Homo sapiens: one gene and its partner. The protein of the gene in region 2 purifies or fractionates together with the protein of the main gene of each other region. This does not show direct contact. Each region holds a gene or a part of one and is shown on either strand. Other genes may lie near its edges.

What was found. Proteins that work in one complex are often made in the same cells at the same time.
Region 1: the proteins of TRAPPC6B (region 2) and MAP1A purify together in Homo sapiens (affinity purification with mass spectrometry; one large-scale study listed by BioGRID and IntAct). This does not show direct contact.

What each region holds. Positions count from the first base shown.
Region 1 is NC_000015.10:43,516,006-43,519,754, reverse strand, and holds the start of MAP1A (microtubule-associated protein 1A), read right to left. Parts: upstream 2,148-3,749; 5' UTR 2,055-2,147; intron 1-2,054. UniProt on the Homo sapiens protein: Structural protein involved in the filamentous cross-bridging between microtubules and other skeletal elements.
Region 2 is NC_000014.9:39,150,299-39,153,457, reverse strand, and holds part of TRAPPC6B (trafficking protein particle complex subunit 6B), read left to right. Parts: intron 1-1,618; coding exon 1,619-1,712; intron 1,713-3,076; coding exon 3,077-3,108; 3' UTR 3,109-3,159. UniProt on the Homo sapiens protein: Component of a transport protein particle (TRAPP) complex that may function in specific stages of inter-organelle traffic.

The DNA of each region.
Region 1 (3,749 bases), on a different chromosome or scaffold from region 2:
GTGTTCCCCAGGCCATGGAGAAAGATAAGGCATCCCCAAATCCCCTATTTCCCTTCTCCAGCCTCACATGAAACACCAAACAATTCAGCAAAGAAAGAAAGTGGCAAATGAGACAGAAGATGCTGAAGAAGAATGCTGCCATCCCCTGCACCCGCCCTTCCTTGCCAAATCCCCTTTCCAATTGCAGTACATAGTGGCATTAACCTCACAGAGCATCCAACAGATGGCAGTGGGCTGTCTGGAGGATACTGGTGGGAGGGTCCATAATTTGTCCCTTAGACCCTCTTCTGTGACCCAGCTCTCTCTTCTTTCTGGTGCTTGGACAAGAGAAGCCTGGGGCCAGGGCCTTTGTTAAGAGGCAGAGCCATGGTGCCAGGATCAGGCAGATCTGGCAGCACAGGGCTGCAGATGCAGCTGTGGGGGAAATGAACGATGGTGTCAGAAGACCAAACCCCATACAGCGTGGGTTGGGCCAAAGGGGAATTCAAGGGTTCCCTTCTATTTACTTGAGAATTGAGGGAACATTTGAGATAAATTCAGAGGACAAGAGCCACCTCAGATGTAGGCAAGGGCAGGGCTTGGGGCAGGTGAGGGATATCAAGGTTCGGGAAGCTGCCAGCCTTAAGTCGTTCAGATTTAGAAAGACAAGAGCTCCCTCCACACAAATAAGGTCATAAATTTGAGGTAGGAGGGTCAGAAAGACAAATATCTATAGCACACACTGATTTGCTTTCTATCTACCCCTCCCTGCCCCCAACCATTCCTCACGGTCCCCATTTATCACCACAAGACTTCTATGATCCCAGTTCCTGTCCTGGCATAAGGTCCTGTTCCTCACTCTATCCCTGGGAGTGGTTCTGACTTGAAATTACATGGTTTATATCCTGTGCCTCTCTTTTTCAGGCCTGGGAGAAAGCCGTTTCTTCTGCTCCCCTGGCTCTCTCACTGAAGGGAACTGACTCGTTTTTTCCTTTTTCTTTAGAGAGGACCATCTTGTGAGGCAGGGACACACAGTGCTCAGCCAGTGCTGGAGTTGCGGGGGGGGGTGGGCTGCGGTGCAGAGGCTGAGCAGGCAGGAGGGCAGGTGTCTCCGCAGTGAGGCAGAAGGGGAGGGGGACCGTTTGGGCAGCTGCAGTTTGCCGCAGTGTGTGAGTGTGCGCGCTGAGCTCCGGCTCCAGCTCCGCCCCCACCCCCCACCCCAGCATGACAAGTCATTTTCTTGGCTGCTTCTGCATGGGGGGTGGGGATGGGGGGATGCAGAGAGAGAGAAGAAACTGGCTCCTCTGTTCAAGAGCCCCCATCTTGGGAAGAGAAGCAGAGATGAGGTGGGGGTAGGGCTGAGACTGGGAACCTGTGGGGTTGACACGACTGGAAATGCAGGGCAGCCGCTGGGGAGGGAGTTCTCCGTCTCCAGAGTGGCCTCGGCAGGGCCAGAAAGGGGGGTTTAGAGTCCCATTCTAAAGCTAGCCGCAGGGAATAGGGTGGGGGAGCCCACTGCAAACCGGTTGGTCTGTAAGGAGGCGCGTGCCACGTCTTAGTGACCCTTTCCTCCCTTCTTTTCCATAGTGTCCCCCACCTTCCCTTACTTGGCAAAAACTCACTGCCCTGCTCACCCCCAGCATAGGAGCAGCTGAGCAATCCAGCAGCTGACACCCAGGGGCCCTCCTATTAGGCACATTCCCATAACATCCCCCTTTCTCTCAGATTCTTCTGCCTCTGACCAGAAACATAGCCCCCAAACTCCTCCAGCATCCTGGGCTGTCAGGCAGAGCCAGTGGCACCACCCTCTGCTGCTGTCCCAGGCTGATTTCTCCCATCCCCGCCCAGCTGGAGAGGTGGACTGTCACAGCCCCTGGTGGCCTCTGGTTCTGGGTCCAGGCTGGGCCCACAGCCAGTAACGTTCATCTTCTCTCTCCATTTCCCCATCCTGCCTACTGCCACTGGGCTAGTTCTAGATGTGCCAGATTAGGTACCAGCACCCTTTCCATGACCCCCATCCCACCTCCCTATCACAGTGTACCCCCACATGCCAAGCCCTTTGGTTCGGTTCTTACCCTGGGGTGTAGGAGGAAGCCTCTCATGGAGGCGGCAGCTCCGGCCTCAGCCGGCAGCTTCAGGGAAGAGTCTGCAGCACTTAGGGTGGGAGTGGGGCGGGCGGTGGGGGGGGGAGGGGGGTGCTTGATGAGGAGGGCGGCGCCAGGGCGGGGAAGAGGGGCTGGTCCGTGACGAGGCACTGGAGACTTAACTGTTTCTTTGCCTTCACGACGTCTGAGCTCCAGTGCTTTTGCTTGGCTCTGTGGGGCTGAGGGATTGTCTAGCAGCTCAAGGAGCCTCTGCAATGTCCTATGGCCCATAGGACCTTTCTCTCCCAACCCTGCTTAGTTAGGAAATATTCTTTTGGCATCAGCCAAAAGACCAAAGCCCCATGCTAGGGCACAGAGCGAGGCTATAGGAGGCATGGGCTGCGTGGGCTCTCCCCCTTCTCTTAGAAACCATCTGCTGCCTCTCTCCTCAGATGGATCCAGGGAGTGACCTTCAGTCCCTGGAGGAGCAGGAGACAAAGGCTGGGGGCCCAAAAGCATGGGGTAGGTGTGGGGAACTGCTTAAGACAAAGGTTGGGGATGCAGAGATGTGCTGCCTTCTTCTGAACCTCAGCACTACAGAAACCAAGGAGGGCAGAAATAAGTCTTATTTTAGGGTTAGAGGGTAGTTTGAAATTCCGGAGTGGACACATGGTCCCTAGCCTGTTGGGGTGGGGCACAGGGACCCTGAGAGCTACATGAAGTTTCATGGGAATGCAGCATAACACAGTAACCACACAGGCACTGATTCTTGGGATTCTTGAGTCATTGGATATGAAGAGACAAGTCCCTGAAGGGACAGGGAGCTTTCTGCCTTACAGTGAAGGAGTTAACAAGGACCAAGAAGGATCACCAGGGCCTCCGGCCCAAGCAAGGTTGTAGGCCAATTATTAAATGTAACAGAAGTACTCTTTAGATTAAAAAAACCCTATAATGACTTTGTAGGGTGATTGGGTTCTTGCTCTCTCCTTGTCTCTTTGCTGTTTCTATATTATATTATTTGGATCTTTCTAATGTTGATCCTGTTTCCCTTAGTCTCTACCTCCATCTCAGATTTAGTAAAGCGCTCTAGGACTCAAAGGAAGAATCTGGAGAGTGGTAGCACTTCCTTCCAACCCGAGGATGCTCATGCTCTTACATAGTCCTTCCCTGCCCTCTTCCCATCCACCCTCCCCAGTTTGGCCAGCTCCTAAGGCCTTCCTCACAATCACAGCCACCCACTCACACCCAAACACTAGCCCCACCCTTGCCCCAGGCTGCCAAGAGTTACTTTTGAAGGTCAGAGAAGCCAAAATAGTCTGTGCTCTCAGCATCCCCCATCCCCCCTTAATTGCAGCCAGAGGAGAGGAGGAGCTGAGTCACTAGTACTCTTGGGGGTTGAGGGGACAAAAGGGGAGCAATCCTTGCTTAGATCCGGGGATGCAAATCTGCGACAATGGCAACAACCCCGTTTGGGTAGAAGCGGCCATCTGCAGAGATACACAGGGAAAACCAGGCTGAGTTCTGAGCATCACAAAAGGGAAATACCCCTCTTCTGCAACTTCATCGTTCTTATTTCCTCCCACCTCAAGCCTTCTATCTCCTCCCTGCTTTCTAGGGCTTTCTGGAGTGTGTTAGGAGGGAAACTTAAGTAGACATTTAGTTTACGAACAAAATAACATTTCCCAG
Region 2 (3,159 bases):
TGGGATCCCACGATGTTGCCCAGGCTCGTCTTGAACTCCTGGGCTCAAGTGATCACCTCACCTCGGCCTCCCAGTGTGTTGGGATTACAGGTGTGAGCCACTGCATCCGGCCTGATTGCCTATTTTCTATATTTTTGGGGTATCCAGGCTCTAATTACATTTTTATGGTTAATGTGTATATTTTCTCTCTTTTTTTTTTTTTTCGGACAGAGTGTGAGACTCACTGCAACCTCTGCCTCCTGGGTTCAAGTGATTCTCCTGCCTCAGCCTCCTGAGTAGCTGGGATTACAGGTGTGCGCCACCATGCCTGGCTAATTTTTTGTATCTTTAGTAGAGACAGGGTTTCACCATGTTGGCGAGGCTAGTCTCAAACTCCTGACCTCGTGATCCACCCACCTCAGCCTCCCAAAGTGCTCGGATTACAGACGTGATTACAAAAGCCACCCAAAATGCTGGGATTACAGCCTCCCAAAGTGCTGGGATTACAGACGTGATTACAAAAGCCACCCAAAATGCTGGGATTACAGCCTCCCAAAGTGCTGGGATTATAGGCCATGCCTGGCATATTTTCTCTTTTTTACTAACTTCTTAGTTTAATATTTCTGGTTCTCACTTAACTTTTTGGGATCTTGGTTTCTTCAGCTGTGAAAAGAGTAAGTTGGACCAATTCAGTGATTTCTAACTATTTTGAGTTATGGACATCTTTGAGAACTGGAACACCTTTCCCCATAAATACGCACATATACATGGTTTTTATTTTCATAGGGGTCACAAATTCCCCGATTAAGAACTCTTGGGATGAACAATCTCTAAGGCCTCTTCCAGCTTAAAATTTCATGACTCAGATCTAGTTACTTATTAGTGCCCATTTATGTATATTATTTATAAGATAATATTTTATATTATTCGTAGATAATGTAGTATGTTGAACATCATGCAGTATAGATGTGGGTAATCAAAAATTCCCTGAATTGCTAATTTTTCAATCCAGTTCTTGTCATGACTTTTGGTTTTGTAGCTCAGCCCTATTCCCTTTCTTTGTTTCTATATGACAGGGTTTCTCAACGTCCAAACTGTTGATACTTTCAACCAGATAATTCTTTGTTGTGGCAAGCTATAAGTCTTGAACAAGTCAAGATTCTTGGTTGTAAATAGGGGAAAGAAATTCTGCTTGTAAGCTAACAAAATTGATAAGCTCAAAGAATAGGCAATAACCAGGGGAGGTTAAGGCAGCCAGTAAGATAGCCAAGTCACTCTGCAGACTGTATCTACTTAGAATCCTGCAGGCAGCAGGGACTGTAGACACAAACTACCTTTACTGCCTCCAGAACTAATTCTGATCAGTTTCTGGCTTGTTTTTGTCACTGAGTCTAGATTCACAGTCCTGGACTGGAGTACTTAATTGGCTGAGCTTAAGTCTTAAGTCCTACGTCCATGCTTTAGTTTCCAGGGAGCTGGGAAATATATCAATATTTTTCAGTAATTTGAACAGTTCTTCAAAATCCTTTTTTTAAACAGGAATGACTTACTGATGATAAATCATGTAATGTTGTATTTATCAATAGCTTTACTATTTTAGTAAATCCTTACTATTTTTAATGATTTTTTTTCCTTTTAGTATTTAGCATTTACGTGTGGCTTAATCAGAGGTGGCTTATCAAACTTGGGAATAAAAAGTATTGTAACAGCTGAAGTGTCTTCAATGCCTGCTTGTAAGTTGAATTCGCCTTTCTTACAAATGTTTTAGTAATTTGTTTTCAGGTCTGTTTTTTTTTTTAATTTAACTGAGAGGAAATTTAAAATGCTGAAACTTTCATTTTAGTTTTATCAATGTAACACTTTAGTGTAGTAATATGTAGCATACTACATTCATTTTCAGTAATTTTTGAATAATGGACTAAAATCCAAATTTATAAGACAATTTAAGGGATGATTTTTAACTTTTCTAAAGTTATTCAAACTGTAACTTTTTTAAAGATATTCTTCTGAATATCTCCTGCAGTGTTTTAAGATAGCAAATTTCCCTAGAACATTGAAAATGCTATTTTTTTTTTTTTTTTTTTTTTTTGAGACGGAGTCTCGCTCTGTTGCCCAGGCTGGAGTGCAGTGGCACAATCTCGGCTCACTGCAAGCTCCACCTCCCGGGTTCACGCCATTCTCCTGCCTCAACCTCCCGAGTAGCTGGGACTACAGTTGCCTGCCACCACGCCCAGCTAATTTTTTGTATTTTTAGTAGAGATGGGTTTCACCGTGTTAGCCAGGATGGTCTCCATCTCCTGACCTTGTGATCCGTCTGCCTCGGCCTCCCAAAGTGCTGGGATTACAGGCATGAACCACCGCGCCCGGCCCGAAAATGCTATTTTTAAACAATTGTTTAGGATATGTCTATTATATCAAGCTAAGTAAAACCAAATATTCTTTTATCACTAAATGTCTCCCTAAAGATCTTTTCACCAGAGCTACCAACCAAGAAAAAATGGACTTGAGCTTTATTGTATTTCTTTTCAATTTACAATGATCATTAGCCATGAAATACTGTACCCAAATGTAGGATTCATAAAGAGAAACAAAAGTGCTTACTCAACAAACCATATAATCATCCCATAAAAATAGAATTGACTGGCCGGGTGTGGTGCCTCACACCTGTAAGCTCAGCACTTTGGGAGGCCGAGGTGGGCGTATCATGAGGTCAGGAGTTTGAGACCAGCCTGGCCAATAAGGTGAAACCCTGTCTCTACTAAAAATACAAAAATTAGCTGGGCGTGGTGACAGACGCCTGTAGTCCCAGCTACTCAGGAGGCTGAGGCAGGAGAATCACTTGAACCCAGGAGGTGGAGGTTGCAGTGAGCAGAGATCGTGCCACTGCACTCCAGCCTGGGCAACAGAGCAAGACTCCATCTCAAAAAAAAAGAAAAAATAGAATTGACTTTATTGAATATTATGAAGAATGCGAAAAAGTTTTTGACATAGCAGATTTCTTGACTGAAACTATTTCCTATATGGAACAGAAAATTGATGTTTAGACTTGTTTTCTTTGTATCTAAAATCAAAGAATTATTTGTATTTTTTTTTTTAGGCAAATTTCAGGTGATGATACAGAAGCTGTAGAACATACTGAAATGCAAGGCTTCAACAGTGTAAAGAGATAAATTATTCATG